Regions from separate parts of the Homo sapiens genome. Here region 2 is linked to region 1. Evidence: fine-mapped expression QTL. Tissue or cell type: nasal epithelium. Region 1 holds a variant in brackets; the other region holds the start of a gene. All regions are shown on one strand. Distances are from middle to middle.

Evidence for each region. PIP is the estimated chance that this variant, and not a neighbour inherited with it, causes the effect.
Region 2: it holds the start of TMC1, and the variant in region 1 is the best candidate, but not a certain one, in a credible set for the expression of TMC1 in nasal epithelium (TOPMed, PIP 0.75).

The regions. Positions count from the first base shown.
Region 1 is chr9:72,594,870-72,597,785 of GRCh38, reverse strand. All of the region lies in intron 2 of TMC1 (transmembrane channel like 1), which reads right to left. Among named protein-coding and RNA genes, the nearest start is that of TMC1, 75 kb to the right of the region's middle. The variant G/A (reference allele first, on the strand shown) is at 1,099.
Region 2 is chr9:72,520,314-72,523,229 of GRCh38, reverse strand. It overlaps TMC1 (transmembrane channel like 1), which reads right to left and starts at 1,622. Exons shown (of 24, transcript NM_138691.3): 1 at 1,317-1,622.

The DNA of each region.
Region 1 (2,916 bases):
GAGAACAGAGGGTCTGTGCTGACATCTGGGTTGTATTAGTACGCGGTTGTTATTGTTATTATTCTCCACTGGGGAGCCAAAGAGAACACATACAGCACAGCTCCCAAATACATCAAAGGCATGGGGGACCCCTTATCTCTGGGGGATGGATTTGTGAGAGGTATCATTGCCAGCTCTCAATATGCCCCTAAGAATCACTAACTTTTATTCCTACTCAGGACCCAGGGTAAGAAGGGTGGGAAATGTTGCCGTTTCCCGGGGCTGACATGCGGGTAGCTAGGAACATCTCATACCAGTACCTACAAATGGCCACTCGCTCTTCAACCTTAATCTAATGGAAGGTGAACAGCAGGTACCCTGAAGGGGGCCCTTCCTTTTCCAGAAACTGAAATCTGTCAGAGGGCGCTGTGACTCCACAGAATTGAGTACTTCCGAGCCAATCTGCACTATCATGAGGAGCGCAGTCCCTGTGCCCCGCTGACCTGCTTGGCAAGGGCATGGTTCCGGCCGCATGTGAACAGCACCTGCATCATTCTTTCTTTCTGTGAGTGAAGAAATCTTAGTGCTAGGACTTTGCACCATTGCACATGTAAAATGTGCTTCTCTAAAGAGCCAGCATTAGAAAGTATTTTACAAAAAAACTTTTCTTATTAGGAATTTCCTATCTCCTCATCTAAAAAGTCTCCCACATGTGGTTTTGTGGTAGTTGCCCCAGCTCTTTGACGTTAGCAGCAAAGCCCTCAGCAGTCTGGGTTTCAATTTGTGAAATTCAAATCCGCAAATATTTACAAGGGTTGCTGGTGGCCAATGTGCCTTCTACACCATCACAAAATGAGGTAGGAATCTAAGGTTTCATGGTACATACTTAGAAGGCGCAGACAGTCAGGTATCTCATAAGCTCTTTTCAGAGACTCTAGTGGTTCTTTTTCTTTGTTCTTTTTCCCTTCTTTTTTCTTTCTTTAGTTAGCTATGTGTTTTCTTCCAGGGGGAATGAAAGCTTTTAACATTCAAATACCATGGAGGCCTGCTGATACACTCTTAACTGCTATAAGAAGCCCAAAGCAACTATGTTACATACATGGTACTCTTGGTTTTCAC[G/A]AAGAACGGTATGTACAATTCCTTATCAGGCATCATCTGCTATAGACTTACACTAAGAGGCTTTGACCAACTTTTTTCGTGGATGAGAAAGCAAGTACTTTCAATTGTTCTTTTTCTATTTCTGTCTTTTTTTTTTTTTTTTTTTTTTACAATTGAAACTGTGAACTGATAGTCCCAATTGTTGAAGTCATTATTTCTGTTCATCAAATGCTTCCCATTCCTCTTTCCTGAGCACATGGTGGGGCTGCATATGGCTTTGTGGTGAGTGGGACAACATGATTAGTTCTGGCCATGGATTTAACAGTAGAAATAAGATGTATTGCTCCAAGACTGGAACACTGAATTGTTCAAGAAAAACCTTCCAGAGCCATTGTTCCCTTGGCCCTAGTGACCAGCACCTTTTTCTGTGTGTGCTCCATTAAACTGGGTCCTGCAGAGAAGGTGATACAGATGGGCAGACAGTAAGAGCAAGAAATAAATCTTTGTTGTCTTAAGCTACTAGAGTTGAGAGTTGGCTGGGCGCGGTGGCTCACGCCTGTAATCCCAGCACTTTGGGAGGCTGAGGCGGGCAAATCACGAGGTCAGGAGTTCAAGACCAGCCTGGTCAATATGGTGAAACCCTGTCTTTACTAAAAATACAAAAATTAGCCGGGCGTGGTGGCATGCGCCTGTAGTCCCAGCTACTTGGGAGGCTGAGGCGGAAGAATCGCTTGAACCCAGGAGGCAGAGGTTGCAGTGAGCCGAGATCACGCCACTGCACTCCAGCCTGGGCGACAGAGCAAGATTCTGTCTCAAAAAGAAAAAAAAAAAAAAAAGAAACCCCATCTCTACTAAAAATACGAAAATTAGCCAGCGTGGTGGTGCATGCCTGTAATCCCAGCTACTCAGGAAGCTCAAGCAGGAGAATCACTTGAGCCCAGGAGGCGGAAGTTGCAGTGAGCCAAGACTGTACCACTGCACTCCAGCCTGGGCAACAGAGCAAGATTCAGTCTAAAAAAAAAAAAAAAAAAAAAAGTTGAGAGTTGCTTGTTACCACAATGTAAACTAGTTTACCCCATTGATGTAAAACCTGTGACAGAAAGGAAAACAACCTCAGGATGAAGCCAACCCCATAGATAGCAGAATGGAAAAAGTAAACAGCGTTCTGGCCATCACTGAGCCACTGGATCAACCCTCATCTGCAGGCCACTCTAATGCTAGACTTAGTAATTATGTAAGGAATAAATTCCCTCATAATTAAATCCACTTGAATCAAGAGCACCTGAACTGATACAGTGATTATGTTCCATGTTATGTGACTCCCCCACCAACAGTGGCTGTATCTTAGTGAAATAAGAGAGGGCACTAGACCTTAGAGCAAACAATATGTAGGCTGGTCGGGGTCTATGAAGTAGCCATACACAGAAGTTCTGTCTAGTGAGGACACCAGATACAGGGAAGTAACTGACCAAAATTAATACCATTTGGCTTCAAATCCTTCAGTAAGTCTATCGGTAGCAGCAGTTGAATCAGAAGCAGAGGAGGCCAGGCATGTTGGCTCACACCTGTAATTCCAGCATTTTGGGAGGCTGAGGTGGGCAGATCACCTGAGGTCAGGAGTTCGAGACTAGCCTGGTCAACATAAAGAAACCCCGTCTCTACTAAAAATACAAAAATTAGCTGGGCGTGGTGGCACACACCTCTAGTACCACCTACTCGGAAGGCTGAGGCAGAAGAATCACTTGAACCTGGGAGGCGGAGCTTGCAGTGAGCCAAGATTGCGCCACTGCACTCAAGCCTGGGTGACAGAGTGAGACGCTGTCTCAAAAAAAAAAAAAA
Region 2 (2,916 bases), 75 kb after region 1:
CCCACAGGCTAACTGCAACTCAGCCCACTTCATTTCCTAATTTTTCCTCCTCCCTGCATCCCCCCGAGTCTTTGTGAGATGCTCTTCCCTTCACTCCTGCCAGCCCTATGGCATCATGGCATTATCATGGTGTATGGAGAACTTCTGTCTTATCTGTTTCTCCCACTAACCCAGTGGTTTTCAACTGGAGACAATTTTGCTCCTCAGGGGACATTTGGAAAAGTCTGGAGACATTTTTAATTGTCACTTCTGGGGAAGGGGGTTGATACTGTCATCTACTGAGTAGAAGCCAAGGATGCTGCTAAACATCCTACAGTGCACAGGACAGCCCCTCACAAAAAAGGATTATCAGGCCCCAAAGGCCAATAGTGCTAAGGTTGAGAAACTGCACTAGGCTGAGTTCCTTTAAAATATGACCCTATTCAGCGCTGTTCCAGCAGCTCCACAGACAGTGTCCAGTGCCCAGTAGGAAGGAATCCAAACAGTTTTAATATTACATTTGAAATTTTAATTGAAAAACTCTTCTGACAGCTGTATGTTATAACTAATAAGCAATATGACCACATACCACAATTCAAAGGAAAACCAATATCCAGAGGTAAAGGTGGCTTACACCCATCAGTCTTTGACACTTCCTCCTATCTAGTTCTCTGTATTTCTTCCCTTTCTCCTTTTCTCTTGTCCCTGTGCTCACTGTCCCCCTTTACTGTCATGTTTGTTTGAATTCCACTTCAAAATGGGAATTTGAACAGAGTGCAATAAATTGTCCCACATTTGTTTATTTTAGGAAATCATTGCATTTAATTTTAACATTTAAACATATCAATTAGGCCAGGTGCGGTGGCTCACGCCTGTAATCCCAGCACTTTGGGAGGCTGAGGCGGGCGGATCACGAGGTCAGGAAATCGAGACCATCCTGGCTAACACGGCGAAACCCCGTCTCTACTAAAAATACAAAAAATTAGCCGGGCGTGATGGCGGGCGCCTGTAGTCCCAGCTACTTGGGGAGCCGAGATCGCGCCACTGCACTCCAGCCTGGGAGACAGAGCAAGACTCCGTCTCAAAAAAAAAAAAACTTATCAATTACTGGGTGACATGCTGTGCACTGCAAGAAAAACAAAGATAAATAGGAAACTGGGACTATCCTAACTGGGGGAGATTTCTGTAGCAGTAGAAAAGTAGAGGAAATATAGTTTTATTTCACTAATGTGATTAGGGAATATCTCATGGAGAAAGTCTTCGATTTAGGTCTTCACACATGTTTCATAAAGAATGTTAACACACCACACATAGGTAATAATGTTGTCTTTCCTTACCTGGCATCATTATGAGGGCCACTTTTTGGGGCAATGATTCCTAAATTTCAGCAACTCCTGGAGGGCTTGTGAAAGAAAGCACAGATTGCTGGGTTCTGCCCTCATAGTTTCTGAGGCAGTAGGTCTTCGGTGAAATCAGAAAACTGGTGTTTCTTTTTTCTTTTTTTTTTTGTGACGGAGTCTTGCTCTGTCACCCAGGCTGGAGCGCAATGGCGTGATTTCAGCTCACTGCAACCTCCGCCTTCCGGGTTCAAGCGATTCTCCCGCCTCAGCCTCTGAGTAGATGGGAAACAGTCGCGCGCCATCATGTTTTTGTAGAGGCGGGGTTTCACTCTATTGGCCAGGCTGATCTTGAACTCCTGACCTCAGGTGATCCGCCCACCTCAACCTCCTGAAGTGCTGGGGTTATAGGCGTGAGCCACGGCGCCTGTTTGTTTTTTTTTTTCTAATCAGAGGTTTTGCTCTTGTCGCCCAGGCTGGAGTGCAATGGTGTGATCTTGTCTCACTGCAACTTCTGCCTCCCAGGTTCAAGTGATTCTCCTGCCTCAGCCTCCCAAGTAACTGTGATTTCAGGTGCCCGCCACTACACCCGGCTAATTTTTGTATTTTTAGTAGAGGCGGGGTTTTGCCATGTTGGCCAGGCTGGTCTCAAAACTCCTGACCTCAGGAGTTCGGCCTCCGAAAGTGCTGGGATTACAGGCATGAGCCACTGTGCCCGGCCTAGAAAACTGGTGTTTCCAACAAGTCCTTTGGTGCTGCTGGTGCTACTGCGGGCCTTCTGAGGAGACTTTGAGAACCGCTGCATCAGGATTATCAGCCTGGTAACTCCTGGCCGAAGAAATGCACACCCTTCATTTGGCTAAAAGAAAGAATTTCCAATATTCATAAAGAAAACACAACTTGTGGGTTCTCCAAGCAGGAGAGGAAAAATCATGTTCCAGTCTATTCCTGTAACTAATGAAGGGCTCAGGTTTCAAAGGTAAGTTAATTGTCAGACCCACTTTATTGTACCCAGTGTCCTTGGGAAACATAATTATTTATTGGAAATATGTCACAACTAACATAAGTCTTAAAAATTTGTTAAATTAGAAACAAAATATTGTATTTGCTGATATGTTAAAACATAAGGGCCTAACATTTAGAATTGCACTTCTCATACTCACAACATGTACTCAAAATGCTGTTAACATCTACTTTGATGATTGTTTTGGGTTTACTTGAATCTAATGTTTCCATTTAATAATTCCTTTTTTTTCCCCTTTCCTTTTTTCAATCAATCCTTTCTCTTTTCTATGTTCTATATTCATGTTATCTTAGAATTCCATTTTGGCCTTCTAGGTTCTTTACTTCTTCCTCCAGCCTGTCATTTTCATGTCTTCAGTGATTTCTCAGACTTCTCACAGAAAGTTAACCATTTTTGTGCATCTTGAAACTTTTAACCTTTGATTTGAAGATAAATGCTAATAAATAAATATAATTCTTATGAATACATTATGCACAATGTTAAATTCAAAATGACTGACATGTTTCATGCTGTGTGCTATAGATATGCTAAACTTCATTTCAAACAGACTAAATAAAACACATGGAACTACATGCA